Linked DNA regions of Homo sapiens: regions 1 and 3 are each reported to be linked to region 2. The links are microRNA targets in miRTarBase. Many come from high-throughput screens and were not tested one by one. Region 2 holds a microRNA gene; each other region holds the end of a gene's coding sequence. Distances are between the middles of the regions.
What was found. The annotated mature microRNA hsa-miR-128-3p reads UCACAGUGAACCGGUCUCUUU and lies in region 2 at 3,756-3,776, shown strand. An mRNA with a match to its seed (bases 2 to 7 or 8) in the 3' UTR can be bound and repressed. Matches are read on the target gene's strand: a 7mer-m8 pairs with bases 2 to 8, a 7mer-A1 pairs with bases 2 to 7 and ends in A, and an 8mer does both.

Region 1 (7,409 bases), 110 Mb from region 2:
ACCCAGGAGGCGGAGCTTGCAGTGAGCCGAGATTGCACCACTGCACTCCAGCCTGGGCAACAGAGCAAGACTCCGTCTCAAAAAAAAAGAAATAGGGCTTCCCAGTTAGAGGTAGCTGGCTTCTTTTTCCAGACTCTGTGATTACCTTAGGAGCCAGGACAACTGACTGGTTACGTGTCAGTTAGGTTGCAAATTAGTCTGGACACTCAGTTGTTTACAAGTATAAATTGTCATCAATGCACAAATGACTCAAATAGCAAATCCTCAAATGTGGTCTAAATGGAATTAGGTCATACTTTTAAAAGTGTTGGGCAGAGAGCCTTTCACTATGGAAGAATAACCATAAGAGAACAGCATTGCTAGAATACATAGAGAGATGCGAGGGCCAAAGAGAAATTGTTGCGGACTTCGGGACCATGTCTCTTCAAAGAAGACCAGGTAGAGAACTGCTGTTAGCATTATGTAGTGACCATTAACTTTTCATAATGCAAGAGATGACCAGAGACCCAAACAAAAGGCAGGAAAACAAGATGGCCCCATAAAAGAAGGAAGGAAGGACAGGCAAACTAAACAACTGAACAAGTCCTGTGGTTGTGCATGTCTTTGGGCTGTGAGACAGGGGATCTTTCCACCTGCCTAGTTTCACTTCCCTGGTTTAGGGGAAATGGGGGTGGGTGAGGTAGAGGAAAGAAAGGTAGAAGAAATGGAAAAGAAGATAATCAGAGCTGGTAATTTTTTGGGATGGTTAACTTTTTGAAGCAGAGAGTAACAACCATATTCTCCAGCCAAGTACAGAATCAGAGTGAAAACTGAGCTCAAAGCATATTAGTTGGTTCTGAGTGATATATTTACTCTTTGTTCTACACTTGGCTACACATATACACTTGGTGTATGTCCATCTTTCCTCTGTTTCTAGGTGCAGAGGTAAATGCTTCTCCTCTTTGGAATCTGGCCCATGTGAAAATGGAGCCTCAAGAAAGTGAAGAAGGCAATGTCTCTGGGCATGGTGTGCTGGGCAGTGATGTCTTCGAGGAGCCTATGTCAGGCATGAGTGAAGCTGGGATTCCTCAGAGCCCTGATGACTCAGATAGCAGCTATGGTTCCCACTCCACTGACAGCCTCATGGGGTCCTCCCCTGTTTTCAACCAGCGCTGCAAGAAGAGGATGAGGAAAATATAAAAGGAAAAGAGGGAGATGTTTTGTCCAGACCTACTAGACCCAACAGAAAAGGTTTTTGTATTAGAATCTGTTTCCTTAAAAATTGATTTGACTCCTGTTCTTAAACACAAGTGGTTTTTCCTAATTCCAGAGGAACTGGACGTCACCAAACAAGGTTGCATTTTACTTTTGCATCCAGTTTTTATAGTTTTCCACAACCAAGCCACCCTTCACAGATAAAATATGATGCTGGCATGGCAATCAGACCAAAGCACTGTCCCCAATTGTTGTCTTAACTATGACTAGACATGTTATACAGCCATTTATCTTGTACAACTGAGAAGAATCATACTTTGACCTACCTTGTAGAGATGTGAGGATTTAGATGTTTGCTAACTTCAAAACTGTGCTTGAATAGACTAATAATATATGCTCATATCAGATGTCAGTTTTCATTTAACTTGATTCATTTTTGGCTCAGGTCATTGGGAACCCATTACTAATACCTAACAGGAAATAGCTAAACACAACACACCTTATCTATTAGTCACCTTCTTAAAACTGTTTTTGCTACTTTTGAAGTGTCTTATTTATAAGATCAGAGGTCTGACACCTTTTTTGCTTAGACAGCTCTCTATCTCATCCATTTATTTTCTTCTCTAGACTTACTCCATCTCTCCTCATCCTTTTGCCTTTGTTATTTCTGCTCGGACTCACATACTTTCACCATATACATATTTTCAATTGTTTCTTTCCTTTTCTCCTTTGTGAGCAAAGCAAACAAGTACTGTCCAAGGACAGCCTTGTGCATATTTCATTTGTTGCATTTGCTTGGTCATCAGAGGACAGCAGTCCATTAAGCACACTTTGCTGCTTCTACTGTAAAGGCAGCCTTTAAAACATAGCAATATGCACCTTTCAACTTTACATCATGTCCTGAACAACATCACTGTGGTTACTCATCCATCAGACTATCTGTATATATAAGTACTGAATCAGTATTTATTAAGTAAATGATGTAGCACTGTAGTGATTAGGAATCATTAGCAAATGTGTTGCTTCATGCCTTGGTGATGGATGCCAGCATGTTAAACTGCTGAAGTTTGATTTTCTGATGCAAAATATATCTTGTAAAATTTAGACCACTCCTTTAATGCAGACCAAAATAAGGCACAGCTTTAATTCATTATTGAATGCCTTAAATGTCCCAGGTATTGAGAATAAATGAATATGATACAAATGAGGTTATAGTTTAACATATAATTTTAAATTTGCCAATTGTAACTCTTTAGCACATTTCTCTAAACCCTTTCTGTCACAGTCTTTTTTTTAATTTATTTATTTATTTATTTATTTTTGAGATGGAGTCTTGCTCTGTCACCCAGGCTGGAGTGCAATGGTGCAATTTCGACTCACTGCAACCTCTGCCTCCCAGGTTCAAGCGATTCTCCTGCCTCAGCCACCTGAGTAGCTGGGATTACACGCACATGCCACCACACCCAGCTAATTTTTGCATTTTTAGTAGAGATGAGGTTTCACCGTGTTGGCCAGGCTGGTCTCAAAACTCCTGACCTCAAGTGATCTGCCCGCCTCGGGCTCCCAAAGTGCTGGGATTACAGGCGTGAGCCACTGCACCTGGCCTCTGTTGCAGTCTTATCTTCATTTTCCTTTGTTTATAATGAAAGTGGCGATTAGGCAGTTAGTTTCCATAAAGTGGCCGTATGGGAATTTAGTTCATTCATCCAGCAAACATTGAGTACCAATTATTTGCTAGGTCCTGTGCAAGGAATACAAAAATGATTAAGACTTCTTCCTTACCCTTTTGGAGCTTGAAGCATAAGGAAGACAAGTTATTCTGTAAGGAAGATAAAGCATTCAAAAGTACTACAGAGAAAAACCAAGTATGCTTGAGTTTTGCGAATGTTCTCCTCTTAAAGAATAGCTTCAAATTTTGAGACCAGTGGTTCCCACTAAGTATAGAACATTAAAATTAATACTTTATAATAAAACACTTTTATTGCTGCAGAATGTTAAACTGCATAACAGGCACCAGATGGTCAAGACGAGGGAAATATGAGAAGGCAAATGATGTGAGGATTAGTATCTTGAGATTCACCTGGTCTGGAATTATGTCATAGGCTACTATGCATCAGAATCACATGGAGGGCTTTCTAAAACAGACTGCTCAGCCCACCCCCAGGGTTTCTGAGTTCATAGGTTATAAGAGGTAAGTTGAACAATTCCCCAGATGATGCTGATGCTCCTGGTCCACAATGTGAGAACCACTAAGTTGGAGTACTGACTCATAGAGATAAAATTCTTTGAAAGAAATGTACTGTTTTAAGATACTGTAAAATGTGGAGGCAGGGCAAACGTTTATAAGGGCTGTTATGTATGAAATGTGCCTCTGACCCAAATCCACGGACTTTGCGAAAATCACCAAGGAGACTTTGCATTAAGTTCAGAGTACAATACAAACTGGGCCTAGCTCTGTATTTAGTCAGTATGTGCACGTGGGAAACTTTAGTAAAATATCACCTCCTTATTGAGACAAGTTTGGACATCTGGCCTTAAGCCTCTGTTGAACAGGAGAAGTGAAGCTGTTTGCAATTATATAATTTTCTAATTTGAAATCATGACAAGCAGTCTTAGAACAAAGTTAAAATTAAAAAGTCTTTATCCAAGTCACCAATGAAACAGGATTCTGATTCATTAATCATGTCTTGCCCACTTTTTTCAACAAACCTGACGTCCTATAATGAGCTATACAGTGTGAGGCATATTTCATAGCAACGTTGGTTGATTGCCAAGGAGACTCTGCCACCGTTCTGGATAAGCTCATGTTTCCCTTTTCCTTGGCTGCTAATAGAAGGGCAACTTACAGTGCAGGGTCAAGAGCAAGAAGCTGGGGGAGTAGAGGCTATACATCTAGCCTAATAATAGAGATCTGAGGTGGTCACCAGGAGACTACGTTCTTTTGATTCCATTCCTCAGCAGCAAAAGTACTTGAGTTCAAATGATAAAACTTGAAGTTGTAGGCTTGGAAGAGTATCAGCTCAGTATATCCTTCCTTGCATAAATACAAGGGAAAGGCCAAGGAATAATCAGCATTAACCTGCCAGGTCCAAGGGTCTTCTATCCCTGACTTCATCTGAGTCACAAGATTTCTCTAATAAGAGAAACTTTGCTACTCTGAGGAAAATTATCCCTTATGGGAGCCCCCAGTTCAGAGGTAAGAACAGTTCTTTCACGTGGAGGTCCAAAATTCTGGACTTCTAGAAACAAGTGAAGTGTGCTAAAGTCTCCTATTTATTGTTTCTCTTCCAGTATTGTGCCATCGATTCTTGCATAAAATTCTGGAATGCTGGCTCTTCATGGCTTTCCTCTGTAACTGCAAGGAAAAAAGGGCAATTCTTTTTCAACTCTTTCATTAGACAAACTGATTAGAGCCCGTCACCCATCCATCAGAAAACAGTACATTACTTCTAAGAAACTTAAGTACTCACTTCCCTCAAAAAGGAAATGTCTCCTAGAAGCATGCTCTATCATGCTGCCCAAAATGTAGTTTCTTTATAAGTAGAAAGAATACCTCCCTCATAGTAGCTAAAATAAGGTCCCACTTGTAGGTATTTTTAACCAAGAGAAATGAAAACATACGTCTACACAAAGATCTATTTGGAAACGTTTATAGTTGCTTTACTCATAATAGCTAAAATCTACCCAAATATCAGTCCACTGGGGAATGGATAAACAAACTGTGGAACATCCACAATAATGGAATATCACTCAGCAATAAAAAAGAACATACTGATACATGCAACAACATGGAGAGACTACACTACTGAGTCAAAAAAGTCAAATGCAAAAGGCTAAATACTGTGATTCTATTTCTATGGCATTCTGGAAAAGGCAAGATCAAAGGAACAGAAATCAGTCAGTGGTTGCCAGGCACTAGGTGTTCAGGATGGGGACTGAAAAAAAAGGGGCATGAGGAAGTTTTGGGGGGTGAGGGAAGTGCTCTACATTTCAACTGTGATTGTGGTTACAAGAAAGTATATATTTATTAAAGCTCATCAAACTATATACTCAAAAAGTGAGTTTCACTGTTGGTAAACTACATCTTAAAAAATCTGATTAAATAAGGCAATTTACATGTAAAACCCAGCCTAAAGAATAAGGAGATTTGCTCTTGGCCATAGCTAAGACCTAAATCGTATGGTGGTTTTCGTGTTTTTTTGTTTGTTTGTTTGTTTGTTTTTTGAGATCAAGTTTCACTCTTGTTACCGAGGCCTGAGTGCAATGGTGAGCTCTCAGTTCACTGCAGCCTCCGCCTCCCAGGTTCAAGCAGTCCTCCTGCCTCAGCCTCCCAAGTAGCTGGGATTACAGGTGCCTGCCACCAAGCCCAGCTAATTTTTTGTACTTGTAGTAGAGATGGGGTTTCACCATGTTGGTCAGGCTGGTCTTGAACTCCTGGCCTCAGGTGATCCGCCCACCTTGGCTCTCAAAGTGCTGGGATTACAGACGTGAGCCACCGTGCCCGGCCTATGGTTGTTTCAAGAATCAGATTCTGGCAGGGCATGGTGGCTCATGCCTGTAATCCCAGCACTTTGGGAGGCCGAGATGGGCGGATCACTTGAGGCCAGGAGTTCGAGACCAGCCTGGCCAACATGGCGAAACCCCGTCTCTACTAAAAATATAAAAAATTAACCAGCTGTGATGGCATGTGCCTGTGGTCCCAGCTACTCTGGAGGCTGAAGTGGGAGAATCACTTGAACCCGGGAGGCAGCGGTTGCAGTCAGCTGAGATCGTGCCACTGCACTCCAGCCTGGGCAATGAAGCAAAACTCTGTCTCAAAAAAATAATAGTAACAATTAGATTCTGCGCACAGTCCATAAAACTATGCCAAGTGGAATTTGGGTTTCCAGAGCCATTCTATCCTTACTGTTTTAGTCCATATAACCTTATGTATTATTTGTGTTTTTTGTTTTTGAGATGGTCTTACTCTGTCACCCAGCCTGGAGTTCTGTGGCACAGTCATAGCTCATAATAGCCTCAAACTTCTGGGCTCAAGCAACCCACCCACCTCAGCCTCCCAAACAGCTTGAACTACAGGTGTGAGTAACCATGCCCAGCTATTTTTTTCTTTTTTGTAGAGAGTGGGACTAACTATGTTGCCCAGGCTTGTCCAGAACTCCTGGCCTCAAGCAATCCTCCTGACTTGGCCTCCCAAAGCAGTGGGATTACAGGCATGAGCCACCACACCCAGCCCTTACATATTCTTAAAACAAAATACTAATAACAACAAACAAAAGTCCTGGATCCCTCAAACCAAGTTAGGACCTAAAGATAAGAAGACACAAGACCAACGAAAGGCCTGTAATCAGCTCAGTATTAACCATCCAGTAGGCAGGACAGGAACTCTCAATATAGGAAACTCTTTTCTGGTGCTGTATCCTTTATCCACTATTACTGGCTACACGCTTAAAGCAAGAAACTCCTGGGCAAACAATGTGAGGATAAGCAGATGCTCTGTTGCCACGGGCCACCTCAGCCACCTCTCACCTCTGTGGTCAATGTCATCAGTATCGCTGTCTGCTTCCTCATCCTCTTCATCCAAGGTTCCTCGAGTCAGGATCAAATCAGAAGGGTGCAGCACAGGAGATAAGCTGTCTACAGTGAAAACACCTATCAGTGATATGCCTCCTCAAAAAGGTGATCTTGAATCACTAAGTAACTATGATCATAAACTGGCAGGATGAAAGTGCTCATGATACATATAAACGCAGGATCTTACCTCTTCTAAATGTATTGTTAATACCACTTAACATTTCTATAATAGCTTAGTTCACAAAGTGCTTTCATAAGGCAAATAGCCCTAGGAGTCCCATTTTTTTAAGCTGAGGGAAATAATTTTCAAGAAGCTTGTCTTACTAGTAGCATCATTCTTTTTTACTGGCTCACAGCTTGGAAGGGGTGATGGTTTTTCCTATGAAAGCTAACAACATTTGAGCAGATCCAGTGTGCTGGTGAGTCACAGTGAAAGTGTGGAGTGCTAAGGAAGCCTCCTGGTGGAAATGTAAGTTCAGAGAAGGTCTGCAGAAAATACAGGGTGAAATGTTATCAAGGAGCCAGGGTATTATTTAAGAAGAGGAGGGAGGGGAAAAATAGAAAATCAAATACACTAATAGAAGTAAAATTCCCTATTCAGAAAAACTAGTGAGGGCTGAGCTCCAGTAATCAGAGAGAAGTCT
Region 2 (7,409 bases):
TGATAAATCACCTATGGTAACAGCAAAAGAGAGGCAAGGCGAGGCAAGGTGACTTATGAATGGCTAACCAGAAGCAAAGATCAAAACCACCTAACTTGGATTGAGAACCCTAGTCTAGGGATGATATTTTGATCTCTTAGTAGGCATGCCTTTAAAAGAAATGATGTACTTAGCATATTTTCTGTGTTTTGCTTTTCAGTTTATTGATTGATAGTGAAAAGTATTTTTAAACCAAATACAATCTAAGGCCACTTAAATGAAATTTATTAAAACTCAGCATTGTTTTTGTTTTAGCACTTTGCAGATTTTCTTCAAGCATTCAGTGAAAACAATTTTGATCTCAGTGTATAAAACTATCTTATTGATTTTTTAATGAACTCATTTCTCTGTATGCTTCTCACCTAGATGTGTACTTCCCAGATGTTTAATAAGGTATTTATTCAGCCTTTTATAACTCTAGGAGTTGAAGTGGAATTTTATCATTGGTTTCTTTAGAGCTTTCTTAACTGCTTATCACTATTGGAGGCTCCCTGACTATGTGAGTGTGACTCACTGAGGAACCCATAACCTCCACCTCCACTGAGGCTGTTTACTGCTCTTGATATTGTGTGAAACTCGTCAGGGTTACCACCAGTTTAGGAGAAGCATCTCTGCACTGGCCCATCTGATGAATAGTAGTCATACTTCTCTTTATTGTTGCAGTCTTCAGTGATCATGATTCACTAACTTTCTGTGCTAGATATAGTTCATGCTTAGCATAGCCATGCAGGATAACTTCCAGGTCCTTAATCTGTTACCCTTAGGAGTTGTCTCGTTGTTAGTTTACAGGTTCTCCCCTTTTTAGTATGTTACTAGCCTTGTATTGTACATGTGACAAATGTTCTTCCAAAGAACATTGAATACAAACATTGGTCATTTTAGCCAAGTTAGAATTTTAGTTCCAAGCTACCTAAAATTTAATAACACAGTCCACGTCAAATAATGTAAACTAGTATATGATATAATTTCAAAAGGTATCAAAAGTTATTCTCTATTCGTGGGAACATTGGTTGTGGTACTGCTCATTAGCTTTATATACACTGGTGTTTTATTCAGAAACAATTTTCTGAATTTTTCTGGACCTCAAGTAATAGAATTTTCATATTGTTTTTTCTTGATTTTTTTCTTCCAAAATTATAACACAGACTGTAGCTGATGCCATAATAAAGAAATGTACCTTCATGCTACTCATTTAAATATCCTTGCGTGTGACTAATTAACTTAATTCATTAGTACACTCTATTAATAAGGCAAGCAAAAATCCTTTGTTCTGTGTTTGTGTTAGCTTACTAATTTTGTTCTTCAACATGGCAAAATTTTTATCCCTGTCCATGGTCAAACTGCCTATAAAATCACTTTCAATCACAGGTTGGGACTAGTGTGCTAGTATATATGCCTCTCTGCCAAAAAAAAAAAAAAAAAAAAATATGACACTTAATAGAATTCAACTAAATATGCCTGATTGGAGGTGAAAACATCTATGTGACAGATAGCATGTGTTTATCATTGGTCATATTTTTAACTATGGGGTTTTCTCTGATGCTAGTTATGATGAGAAGGAGGAAACAATAAATCAGGTTGCATCTGGATAGTGCTACAGGCACAAAAAAGAGAATCATGTCTTTGAAAAATGTTTGACATTGTGTTTGACTCTTATGAGTCAGTCATAATATAACACTTTATAAAAGCTAGACTTGTCCTTTCAGCTGTTTTATATAGTATCCTCTTAACTTACAGCTTAAGTTAGTTGACTCATTCAGTTTGAAGAATAAAAGGAATAAATCCTCAAAGCATTCTTATCTAAAAGAGAAAGGAATTTTGTTATGCTAATAAGTATCATAGAAAATTTTCCTTTAAAGAAAAGTTCAGCAGGGCCAGTGCCAACTGTTGTGTTGGTAATTGTATTGAACCTTTTCATAGAATTAGTGGGGATTTGAACTCTTTTTTAAAAGTTATAATCTAAAGACTTTTTTATAGTTAGCTCATCATTAATTTTTATGTCAAAACTTGCAGAAGGCCAGGCACGGTGGCTCACACCTGTAATCCCACCACTCTGGGAGGCCAAGGCGGGTGGATCACCTGAGGTCAGGAATTTCAGACCAGCCTGGCCAACATTGTGAAACCCTGTGTCTACTTTAAAAATACACAAAAAAAATTAGCCGGGCATGGTGGCGCACACCTGTAATACCAGCTACTCGGGAGGCTGAGGCAGGAGAATCGTTTGAACCTAGGAGGCGGAGGTTCCAGTGAGCTGAGATGGCGCCACTGCACTCCAGCCTGGGCAACAGAGTGAGACTGTCTCAAAAAAAAAAAAAAAAAACTTAACAGAAAAGTGTGCATTTATGTTTGTATGTGCCCTAGTGTAGAAAAGTAAAATGTACTGGGAAATTAACATGATAGTTTATTGTTTTTGAGTTTTTTTACAGGTATATAGCAATTACTGTCTCATAATTTACATTTTTATATGGAAACATACTTCTGGGTTTCCTTTTGGTTTTTATTTTCTTACCTCTCTACATTCTACTATCCCAATCTGATTAAAAATGAGAAATACTTTTTCATATCTCTTATATTTGTATTTCTTGTCAAACAACACTTGCTTACCCCACAGTGTCAAGAAGCATGTTTTTTTTTAATTACATAAAAGGGTGAAACTAATTATTCAACCAAATAATGAAAACACTAGTAGACTTGGAGCAATTTTTTTTCACTGTGGCACAAGTAATGTTTAAAAGTTTGTATTTGAACTTAAAGAAATTTTGCCCTAAATTAACAAGCCCAACTGAGCAAAGTATTTTTAGACCAGATAGGGTATGGGCAGTAGAAATACAGGATCTTTCATTATTTTTCCTTTGGTGGATAGGGAGGAGGATGGGGAAATATCTCAAGGATAAAATGCTCTAGGTCTTTTATCCATGTGTCCCAGTGGACCACAACTGAAATCAGGACTAACATTACTGCTGGGGAAATGAATGTACTAGTCTTTTGTTATGAATGTGAAACTACTGAACTGTTCATTCAAAACAAGGTTGAGTAAACCCCTGTCAACAGAAACAGAAGAAACCCTGGCTACACACATAAGACTTTCTGAACAATGCACTGTATAATGGGAAAGAACAACAAAATAAAAGTCAGAATCCTGATGGCCCTTAGTCATTTGTAACTGGTGTTAGGCATATCACTTAAAGCCACTGAGTTTCAGTTGGACTCATTTGCAAAGTATGGAATTTTTACTGTGTTGTCTGTTGAAGCCTCTGTGTACTGTAAAACTCCATAATTCTTTGTGTCTCATGTGAGTCATTTCTAGTTCTAAAAGGTAGAATAATAGAGAATTGGTTTGTAACAGCTTGGCAACCAACTGTCAATAACTGGAGTCAATGAAAGCAACTATTTCAAAAGATCAGATTACTTACCAGTTTCACTAATAAAGATTTATTACTTTAAACCTTTATCATAAAATGTATGCTTTGAATACTGTGAAGTACACTGCATATAAGGAGTGTGGTATAGTATAAAGAAACTTTCTGCAGGTAGTAATTATAGTGAAGATTTTAGGTTTACAAAGCCCTAGCTGTTTTCTGTGTAGCTTTTATTATTCTTATGACTCTTGACAAGTTTGTAGCTTCACCATATACATTTAATATTTTGCAATAATTGGCCTTGTTCCTGAGCTGTTGGATTCGGGGCCGTAGCACTGTCTGAGAGGTTTACATTTCTCACAGTGAACCGGTCTCTTTTTCAGCTGCTTCCTGGCTTCTTTTTACTCAGGTTTCCACTGCTTTTTTGCTTTTTTTAATGCTGTATGAAGGTGTTAACATTTGTTTATATTTTTCATTAATTGTAATACCTTTAAATCATGCATCATACTCAGAAATAGGGATTAGAATTTAAGTGACATCTTTGGCCTAATATAATTTACCTGTTAAAAATTTGTGAAAGCTATTGCTTATTTCTTTTCCAAAGTAGATTTGGATGACAAATTCAGTTTGGTTTTGAGCTTATCTAAAAAGCTTAATGTTTTAAGCATACCAAACTCATTAGCAGAAGTCAAATATGTCTCTCCCTATTGCTACACAACTTTTTAGGGATATTGTTATATATGAAAGCATGACATCAAACGGACCTAATACACCTAAATGCATTTGAAGCTACTTGGTCTCGGTTCTTACCAACGATATAATTTAATTTTTTTTTCCAAACGATGATGTTGTTGCATACCTGTGGAAAGCAAAATGATTCTGTGAAACTATACTTTTAGTTTTGCAACCATTTGATAACTTCAAAGATTATCAATGTATTATATCTTTAGTCTTAGCTTTCCAGATAACCCAGAATCATATGGTTCCAAGTTGATTAAGCTTTGTTACCAGCAGACTATGGTAGGATCCTGATGAACGACACTATGGAAGAAACTTGTTAGGATAAACAGTCTTCAATGTGTGCATATTGTTGACAGAATTTGAAGGCACAAATTTAAGAGTAACTAGGGTGTAAAAGGCGAGCAAAGAAAAGTCAGCACTACTGGGTAAGCAGGTGAGGGGGCTTATTGATAGGAGAGTCGGCTATGTCAAATAGGGACTCAAGGCACAAAGTCAATTTCTTTACTGACAACTTTCAATCCAAGTAATAGGAATTTTGTATTTGTAAATTACTAGGTAGTGGCTCTGGCTATTCTTGTTTTTTCATTGATTTCTGTGAGCATTTCTTAGTATGTATTGTGTGATTCAGCATAGATTCAGACATTGTATAATACCTACAAATCCACCTATTTCCCTTTTCCCTTCTCCATTAACCTGCCGCCACTGAAATCTGGAGCCAAATATATCTGGTAAGTACCCACAGATTTCCTTGAGTTGTATAGACTCTTCCATGGAATAGTTCTTTAAATAGCTGTGAGCAATAAACTCTGTGTGACTGTTTTTGTTAGAATTGGTTTTTGTATATGTATATGTTTATTTCAGGCACAGGAGTGAGAGAAGAGGGGATGAGAGATGAGAAGGGATAATCAAGTGTGATGGCAATTGCATCTCCTTCCAAATACACCCATGGGGCTGGCTTTAGTTGAACTTGCCCACCTACTAAAATAGTGCCACAGACAGAAGCCCAAGATTATAAGCTTGAGGTTTTAACAATTTGGTCTTGTAGATGCCTAGTTACAAATAAATTTGGCTTTAGTAAAATGGCTCATCTTTAAAAAAAAAAAAAAAGAAAACTACCTTCACAGTGCTTCTATTGTACAAGCACAGTCTGGAAAAAAAATTAATAGGTACTATTAAGTGAAATAACCTTAGATTCATGGGTATTCTAAGCATTTCTTTAATACTTTTTGTAATTTTTCTGATTATTTCTGTGTTATTAAGAATGCTTTCCTTTAGAACAAATGCTAGTTCAGATCACCTATATAAAATAAAATCAGCCTGTTAATGCCTGTTCAATACTTTTGTGCTGAGCACTGCATTTCCTTCCTGCTCTCTTCTTGGTTAAAGTGAGAGTTAAAAATAGAACATTCTGTGGAGCCCTCCAGGGAAGTTCCTGAACCATCAGTTTATATTGTCCTAGTTCTCTTAGCTTGCAGAATTGATTGTGCTTTCCTCTGAAAGTGCTGAAAGAAATGGGATAATATTGCAACAGTGCAGTCCTTTAACAAAACAGAATGGTAGTGTTTTAAAAAAAAAAATCTATGTTGAGATCTGGATATTTATTTTGTTGTTTGGTATCACTTACTATTGGCATTTCTTACTTTACAAAATAGAGGCTTTCCCACAATATTGACGTAAATTCCTATAAAAGATATAGTGTTTTCCTCTACTTTCCAGATTAAATTCAGATGTATCACAGGAAGAATTTTTTTTAATTCTAATATACTAAAATATACTTTTTAGTGAAGAAAGAATAATTTATGTGGTAGCCAAGTTGGAGTCGGGATACTGGAAATACTCTTCTTGTAGCATTTTTGAAACCTGTTGATACTTTTCATTCTCTAGAAATCTACTTCTCCTTCCTAATCCTCAGCCTTCTCCCTCTTTTCCAGATCATTGGATTTTTCTTTCTCAAACTTGGCAGTCTTCAAACTATACTTTTGACACTATGAGAACTCTGTACCCACTCTTGCTTTTGTCTGAATAATTAGACAAGGAACCTAACCTACAATGCCACTTCTCTAGGTGTCACTCTGTAACGGTTCATGCCCAGCAGTCTGAAATTTCTTTGTTTAAACAAAAGTTCAGAGGAATTCATGAGCAACTTGAACAGTTCAAGATGTAAATTTTATTAAGCAAATGTACATAATGTGAGGCATACCTGTAATTAAATGATCCTTTATTTTATGTTAACAATTATTTTATTAATGATTTTGTCTTACATAGGCAAGAGTAAGGTTCTTATCTTTGATTGGATTAGGAGAATGATGTGGGCTTTTTTGTTTTTAGTGCTTTCCAGCTGAGTATTTCTAGTTTTGCTTGTGATTATAGTAATTTTAACCAACATAGATCCCAGTTTTATTTTCTTTTTCATTGGAACAAATGTTAGCCTGTTAATGCCTGTTGAGTACTTTTCTGCTAAGCACTGCATTAGAAAAAGACCAATAATCTTTTAGTAATCTTTAATGTTCTGCTCTTTAGAGAATATAATTCAAAATTATATACTTTTTAGCCAGTTGCTGTGTTGTATGTTATAATTATTAGAATGAGTGATAAAACATTTCATCATGATTTCTGGAAAAAACATTCATATTCCTGTCCTAATGCCAGTCGAATTTCCCTTCTGGGGTACCGATCATTCTGAGCATCAAATGTTAAATGACAATTTTAGTTGTGTTAGTTTAGAACAGTTCTTCAGACCCTGATGGCTTTCTACCCAGTGTAGTTTAAACCTGGTGAATTTTCCTGCCTTGGATGTAAAAATGAATGAAATGCTACTCAGTGGATGGAAAAAAGTCATTGCTTCACAGAACTTCAAGACTTCGCCCATAAAACGTAGCAGCTCTCCTTGCACAAAATGTGTCCAGGTTAAAGCTGGCACTGCCCTGCTGAGTAAAGTCTGACTTCTTGGCAAAGCAGCCTGACTTTGTGGAGAAGACAGCCAGTATCTATGAAAACTCTGCTAGACTAATCTTGTATAGACTCATCTGGAATGTGGCAACAGACTTTTTGAGCAAAAGCAGCCTCCGAGGCAAAACAGCAAAACTAAAGCCCAAAGGGAACATTGGAGATTCACTTGGAAATACTCAGGCTGAGAGACAGAACTGTGGGATGTGGAACCTGAAATAGTGTCACTATTTGAGCCAGTTCTTCTCCTTCCCAATTGTCTTTTGTTATGTTTTAATATTTTTAGAGATGGAGTCTCACTGTTTTGCCTAGACTGGAGTGCAG
Region 3 (7,409 bases), not on the chromosome of region 2:
TTCCCTGGAGCATCTGGTCCTCCTCAGCTGAGGCTGTCAGGTGAAGAATCTCTGGAGCTGGATGTGGACAAATCCATTCACAAGACAAGACACGGGGATGGGCAGTCTCCTTGCTCATTGCACTGTTTTCCCTGGCTGGATTCGTTTGATCACTGCTTCTCTAAAGAGCCCTAAGCTCAGAATTTAGCTGCTTAAACACATGGTCTTGTCTCTCTGATTTTTTTTTCCTTTTTCATCCAAGTAATTTTGTGAAGGGGAAAACATCCTCCAATAACAGCATTTCCCGGGGACTCTCCTCCTGGCATGCCCACTAACCGCACCTGCACCCGGCTCTCTGACTGATGCCGGCTCCACCAGCGGTCCGGTCTGGTCCGGTCCGGTCCAGTGCAGGGGGTCTAACGGTGTGTTTATTTTCTCCTCCTGCTCTGTCTCTACCCAGAGTCTGAAGGAAGGCCTGACGGTGCAAGAACGGTTGAAGCTCTTTGAATCCAGGGACTTGAAGAAAGACTAGGTGTGTCCCATCCAAGTTGAGCACGCGCCTTCCCCAGCTTGCAGCAGCACACCCCAAGCGCTGCTTTTCACCTGTACCTTTGTTTTATTATTATTATTATTATTGCTGTTGTTGTCATCGTTAACTGTGGGCATGGAATGCGTGAGGCTGGCTTCTGGGTTGTCCACACCACTCTCTGCTGTGTTGACTTCCTGTTGTCTTCATCAAAGCTTTTTTCCGTGGTATTCTAAAATTAGGCCAGCAGTGGGGGCTGGGAGGGCATCTGTGTTAGTCCTTTCCTGGCTGTGACCCGCCACACTCACTGTCAGTATTAAGGCCCAGCAGCCTGTTGATAAGCTACCCTGTCTCACCATGTGCTGGTGTGGAAACGGGGCCCAGCCAGCACGCCTCAAGGTAGATGGAATCCCCACTGGTCAGAGAAAAAGCTATGCGGACACTCCAGCTTGGCCTGGGTCACAGCACTGACTCCTCACCCGCTAGTCTGGCTGTTAAGAGGAGAAAGTGCACTGCCTTCCAGCCCAGGAGGAGGACAGCATTTTGTATTTGTTCCACTGATGCAGCTTAGAACCACACCCCTGAGAGTCGTGGCAAACCTTTCACAACCTGGAAAATGTTGAAAGCAACCATTCCTATTTTTGTTTGTTTTTTATTAAATCTTGCACAAAATCCCCGGCCCCTCTCCTTCCTTCCTTCCTTCCTTCCTCCGCTCGTTCCTTTCTTGGTCTCCAGTAACCCTGGTCTTTTCATAACTGCTCGAGATTGTTGACCTGCAGCCCAGGTTTCAGACTCTGATTGCAAAAAACAAATGAATTCCCCCCAGGAATCATTCAAAATGGGGGAAGGTTTGGGGGTTTGGGTTTTTTTTTTACCTTTTGGAAAAGAAACCGTCACATTGCTTTGGAAAAGGTTGAGAGGAGACCCCTGTTAAGTCAAGAAGAAAGTACAGAGGATGTCAGAATCTGATGAGAACAGCACATTAGTGTTTATTGAGACTCCGATCTTAACTCTCATTTAATTAATCTGAGCTCTGAAAACCTATCTTGCAGCATTTATCTTTAAAAGAGCCTGGTTAAAGTAAACCTATACTAACAATTTTGCTTTTTCTAACAGTTTGAGGAAGACCTTTTTAACCACCACAAAACATTCTATGGCAATTCTTGAAAATCTCTTAAATTGGAGTCTATTATGGCCCCATGAAAACCATTAATCCCATTAAGATAGGGAGTATAAACCCCTGGCTGGTGGAACAGGTTCTGCTACTTTAGGAGCAAGGTGGGGTGTGAGTAGATGGTTTTCATGCCAAGAACATGCTTTCACTTTGTATTCATGCTTGTGTTGGTGTGATGGTCTCTGTGGGTGGGTGGATGCTTTGGGCGTTGAAATCTAGAAATCCTGTTGCTCAGTTTCTAGATGAAGTCATGAGCAAGGCCATCAGTGGAGCTCTGGCCCCGCCCCCAATGTGCAGAAGGGCCGGGAGCAAGGCCTGGAGTTTTCATGTGTTTTCAGACCCAGGTTTAGGTGCTCTCTTCTCACTGAAATAACTAAGTGCTCTCCACTGGCATCGAGCCCTTTCCACAAGTTTTTAAGGCTCTTAACCCACACTTTCACTCCTCTGCTACTAGTCTTCAGTGTTGTTAACAGCAAGAGAAAATTGGGTTTGTTTAAAAATCTACTTCTCTGAGGTGGCACAGTTGCGTAGCTGTAGTCCCAGCTACTCAGGAGGCTGAGGTAGTAGGATTGCTTGAGCCCGGGAGGTCGAGGCTGCAATCAGTCATGATCGTGTCACTGCACTCCAGCCTGGGTGACAAAGCAAGGCCCCATATCAGATATAGATATACTTATCAGACCCCCCCTGACCATTTAGATTGGCAGTGCTTTGAGAAATGCACTATGACCTTTCTGTGTCAATGGGAATATACAGAAGGAACATTCGGGACCCCGCTGTCCCCCACAGCCTCATTGTTGTCTCCAGGACACTGCTGGGTCACACGAATGCTCCAGGACAGACAGGGACCTGGAGTGCATCAGGATCTGACCAGATAGGAGTTTTTGCCTCGTGTCTGGGTGCTACGATTTTGTGCCGTTCTCTGAGGTCCACCACCTGCCCTTCCTGGCATGGTTTCCTTCGTGACCATCCCTGCTGCCCCTGGGGGTGGACCCCACTGGCCCTTCTGCAGACAGCTCCCTGCCTTCTGCCCTCCAGGGGGTTCTGGCCAGAGTCCATGCTTGGAGACAGGATCATCTGCCTTCAGCCCTCACAGTGCTTTAAATTAAAGCAAGTTTGCCCATAGGACAAAAGAGCATTTGATTCCCTTTTTTCTGTCACATATCCCTTGAGGCTGGACTTCAGGAATCCTGGAAAATTAATATGAGTGCAGCATGTGAGGGGTCAGAGACAGGCCAGCAGGGCGTCTGCATTCCTCCCTGCCACAGGTCTCTCCCCAGAGGCTGGTTTAGTGTAGGGTATTGCCAGGAAACGGACTGAGGCTGCTTTGCTAAGAGCTCCTGAAAATGCCCTGGGCCTGTCCTGGCGTTTCTGAAGAGCCCTCATACAGGGACAGCCACCATCTGGGTCAAGGAAGTCTGGGTTCCCTGCTGGTGGGCTCCATCCTGCGATGGAGTGAACCAGGCGAGAAAGGATGACGATGTTCTTCATGTTGCACCTGGACATGCCCCAGGAACAGAGACTTGCCCAGGTGGCAACACTGGCACAGATGTTGACGGCTGCCCAACTGGTGCCACACTGAGCAGGGAGCCTTGTGCTGCACAGGGCTGGGCCCTCTCTCCAGTTTCCTTCCTGCAGGCATCCAAATACCCTGGAAGGGATTTAACCCCTGAATTCCAGAGGGAAGAAAGAAGAACAGTGAAGAAGTAGAACTGGTTTCTGTATGGGGAGAGGAAAGTCTTAGGGACAGCTGCAGGCGGGGTCTCAGGCTGCTCCTTGGCACCAGCTACACAGTAGTGAGCTTTCCCAGCTTTACCGATGAGGAAGAAGTTCAAATAGATAGACTTCAGCATTTTAATTATTTTCCTATAAATGTATTTATGTGTAGTATGCTAGCACCAGCCAGTAAGCTGTGCCACACATATGAATGGGAAAGCGAGGCAGTTGTGCTCGTGTGAGTTTCTGCAGGCTTGTGGGTAATTACCTTGTGTGCACGCCTGCACGTGCAGAATAGTCACTTTCTGCTGGTCAGTTTCTTTATCCACCCATGGTGCCCCAGCCCCAGGCAGGTGTGGAGACCAGCATTTCAGAGGACGCGCTGTCCACAGCCTCCCGGGTCTGAGTGGATCATTGGGCAGGGGTGGAGACAGTGCGCTGCCCTCTGAGCTGGAAGCCTGTGCTTCAGGGAGTCATAATGGGCCTGTGCTAAGTGGGTGATGCAGTGGACATCCCAGGGCGACTAGAGGTGGCAGTATCGCGAATTTGCAGGTTTATTGAACAAGAGGTAACATCGGAGAGGATCTTGCCTTCGGATTCAGCAAGTATGAAGGCAGAAGAGCATGGAGAGCAAGGCCCCACAGCCTGCTTAGTGAGTTGGAAGGCCCAGCAAGAACCTGTTTCTGCAGCAGCCACCAGCTCCCATCACCCCTTGACCCTCCAGCTCATGCTGGAGAAGAGGGAATTTTGGCTGTTTAAAGAACACAGTTGTGAATCTCAGAATGTGCCTGAAAGGAATACTGACAGATAAGGCCGGAAACAAAACTGATGGCTTGAAAAACATTTTTATGGAATGTATTTACTATCATTTTGTTTTACTATAGAGGTAGATGGGACTCTTAACTTTTGGGTACATGGAAACATGCTGAAAACTGAACACAATCCTGATCATCACTCCTGCCTGGCTGTCTCCTGGGAGGCTGCCGGGTGCCACGGAGCTGGGACACAGCAGAGCCCGCTAGGTGTTGCAGGGCCCTGGAGGCCAAGGCCACCCTGTGTGGGGTCCCTGTTGGCAGCCAGGTCCCTACACAAACAAGTAATCCTGTTTGGCCTCCTAGGTTTTGCATATGACCTGCAGCCTAATTTGGGGTGTAGGGGAAGCTCTGCTGGCCCCTGCTCCTTTGTATGTTGGGTGACTTTAATGGCTGGCCACATACCCCTTTCTCCCAGCTACTCATTCACTGACTTGGGTAAGTTCTAAGACAGTTCGCACTTAGAAAAGAATGTGACACATCAACATTAACTTTTCCTGAAAAGAAGAGTTTGCCTAACATGGTCCTAAAGAAGCTTGGAATTTATAAGACTTTCCTTTATAAGATATAGTGGGGGTTTTTTTGGGTGGAGGGGGGTTGTTTTTTGTTTTTTGTTTTCAAGACAGAGTCTCGCTCTGTTGTCCAGGCTGGAGTGTAGTGGCATGATCTCGGCTCACTGCAACCTCTGCCTCCCAGGTTCATGCCATTCTCCTGCCTCAGCCTCCCGAGTAGCTGGGACTACAGGTGTCTGCCGCCACGCCTGGCTAATTTTTTTGTATTTTTAGTAGAGACGGGGTTTCACCATGTTGGTCAGGATGGTCTCGATTTCCTGACCTCGTGATCCGCCTGTCTCGGCCTCCCAAAGTGCTGGGATTACAGGCGTGAGCCACCACGCCTGGCCTATAAGATACGGTAAAAAAAAAAAACTGTGACCCCTTTGTCACTAAGGGAGAAAGAAATTAAGTATTGTCAAAGTTCTATAAAGAATGGAAATGTATGATATTATACTTCAAAGGAATTTGATGTTGAAATTTTAAAGAAAATTTGTCATGTTGATGAGAAGCTTCACTTTCCTGGGAACTTCATTCGTTTTAGGGCATGAGATAAAAGTCCTGGCTAGGGGAGCCATAGGTCTGTTGTACAAGGAATTTGCTTTCTAAACAAGTTGTAACTTGCCCTAAGGTCCCTGTTGGAGCACTAAGAGGTGACACAGGCCAGAGACAACGTTTCGTTTCCCCTTCCCTGCAAGCTGGGATCAGCCCTGTGTTTTCTCCTTTCAGCTGAAGTGAGCGAAGGTTCTCAGTGCTGGCAAAAGAGCCCACTTTCTAAAAGGACTTGGGAAGAAAGCTGCTGGGAACTTGCTTATTAAAAAGTTCCTTAGAATTAAGGTATCTACCCACTGTTTTCGCACCTTTCACCTTCCTGGGCTTTCCTGCCCTCCAGCATTCTTCTCTAGAGAGGTTCCTAGCCCGCTCAGCGCGAGCGTCTCCAGTAGGTAATAGCAGCTGAACGTGGGTTTTCCACGGACTTCAGGCTTGGAGGTGCCATATACAAGCACACTTCTTCCTTCCCCTGGCTTCTCCATGCCACCACCCACTTTAAAGATGTAAACTCAGTAGATTTTTCATCCAGTGAACGGTCATCTTCACATCGAAAGGTGAAGGCCACCACTGTTCTCAATGCCAAGCAACAGAACGTTCTGAGATGGCCGTTCTTCCTTGCACAGCAGCTACGGCAGGTTGTTCTGCAGCCACCCCTTAGAGGGGGCTCTTCGTTTTACCTTTGTACAGTTCTTGTGTTTACACATTTGGGCCAAACAGCTTTCAGCAAGGGCATGTGTCCACAGCTGATGGGCAGTTAAGAACCAGCCTGAGCTGAAGGCTAGTAATACCGTGCTGTAGGCTCTTTAAAAGGAAAGCCTGGCATAAACCCAGCATGGAAAGGAACATTATCAGTTATCTCAAATTTTGTCTGCCAGGGACAAGACCCTGTTCATTCTTTTGCCCTTTTCAGAACTGTGAGCTTCAAGTATTCTTGCTTCTCTGTAAAGGGAAGACATCTCCCTTCTCTGAAATCCTTCAACAAAAGAAAAGGCTCTTGGCAGGGTAGGGGAGTCAGTAGCTCAACACTAGATCATCCCTAGAGATGGGGCAAGTTTCTGTCTGAACACGTCTTGGGTCCGAGTCCTTAGGTGTTCGGATGCAGTACTTTGTGAATACTTAAGCTACTGCATGCTTGGTGTAGCTTGCAATTTCTCTGTATTTAAAAGCAGCTGTGTTTATTTTCTTCAAAATAACCTGTATATTATTTAGAGCAAGCAATGTAAATATTACTGAGAAGTTACTGCAGGGATTTTTGTGACAGAGTTTGTATGGGTTTTTAAAAAAATCTTAGACACCCCTTTTTAAGATGGGGAGAACAGGGTTGACTGCACCGTTGAAGCCCGCCCAGCATTATAAGGAAATGTTTTTAATGACTGCTGCATCTTTGTAAAACGTTTGGTCATCTAACAGATGGTTTTAAAGTGTACAATATCCAAAATAACGATAGCCCTGTATCCATACATTGTTTCATTGAAAGAATTCTCTATTGCCTCTTCTTGGTAGAGCCAGAGTCCTTAAGGAAAATCAGGAAAATTAAGAAAATGATGGTGCCATCTTGACCAGACTTCTGCACAGTAATTTAACGCTATCCTAGGGAGACTTGGTTGAAGGCACAGTTCTGGGATCAGGGTCTAAATGTGCAGTTTCTGAGAACCTTCAAGACCACTCACTGGGCAGGGCTCTGTGGAGCACTGGAGCTGTTTGGATTCCCCAGCCCTTTGGTCATATCCTGGAATTCCGTGGAGGCTGCAGAACTTAGATGCAGCTGTTTTTTACAGCACCTATTTTTGTCAGATTGGTAAGGAAACACTGAGTCACAGAATACTTAAGAATTGGAGACTCCAGTAATGTAGGATGGCCTGAGAGGACGTCCAAGTCCCAAGGGGTGGACACGGCATGTTCCTCGGGCACAGCCTCAGTGGGGGCCTTCCCCAGGCGCAGCTCGGCCACCTGAGGAAAGGGTGTTTCGGAGGCGCAGCCACACACACAGCGCTGGCAGCCTCACGGTCACGCCCATCACTCCCTGCCCCCCACTGCCCTTGAGAAGTTAGTGGTGTCACATCCTTAGTTTTATAGACAGCTAGGAATAGATTGTGAAGAAC

Region 1: miRTarBase lists SUPT7L as a target of hsa-miR-128-3p. Seed matches in the 3' UTR shown: 7mer-m8 at 2,106-2,112.
Region 3: the mRNA of MPRIP is a reported target of hsa-miR-128-3p. Seed matches in the 3' UTR shown: 7mer-A1 at 5,130-5,136 and 7mer-A1 at 6,219-6,225.

Annotation. Positions count from the first base shown.
Region 1 is chr2:27,647,255-27,654,663 of GRCh38, reverse strand. It overlaps SUPT7L (SPT7 like, STAGA complex subunit gamma), which reads left to right. Exons shown (of 6, transcript NM_014860.3): 6 at 917-3,855. The coding sequence ends at 1,179. It overlaps GPN1 (GPN-loop GTPase 1), which reads right to left. Exons shown (of 14, transcript NM_007266.4): 13 at 6,721-6,828; 14 at 3,153-4,549. The coding sequence ends at 4,464. Among named protein-coding and RNA genes, the nearest start is that of SUPT7L, 13 kb to the left of the region's middle. RefSeq lists an enhancer at 858-2,057.
Region 2 is chr2:135,661,691-135,669,099 of GRCh38, forward strand. It overlaps MIR128-1 (microRNA 128-1), which reads left to right and starts at 3,707; the gene lies at 3,707-3,788. The region is part of intron 19 of R3HDM1 (R3H domain containing 1); the gene reads left to right. LOC124907893 (a long non-coding RNA gene) reads left to right here. Exons shown (of 2, transcript XR_007087245.1): 1 at 1-4,867; 2 at 6,071-7,409. RefSeq lists an enhancer at 3,025-3,124.
Region 3 is chr17:17,184,384-17,191,792 of GRCh38, forward strand. It overlaps MPRIP (myosin phosphatase Rho interacting protein), which reads left to right. Exons shown (of 24, transcript NM_001364716.4): 24 at 440-7,409. The coding sequence ends at 511. Among named protein-coding and RNA genes, the nearest start is that of PLD6, 18 kb to the right of the region's middle. RefSeq lists enhancers at 418-918, 1,706-1,905, 1,936-2,005, 6,748-7,409.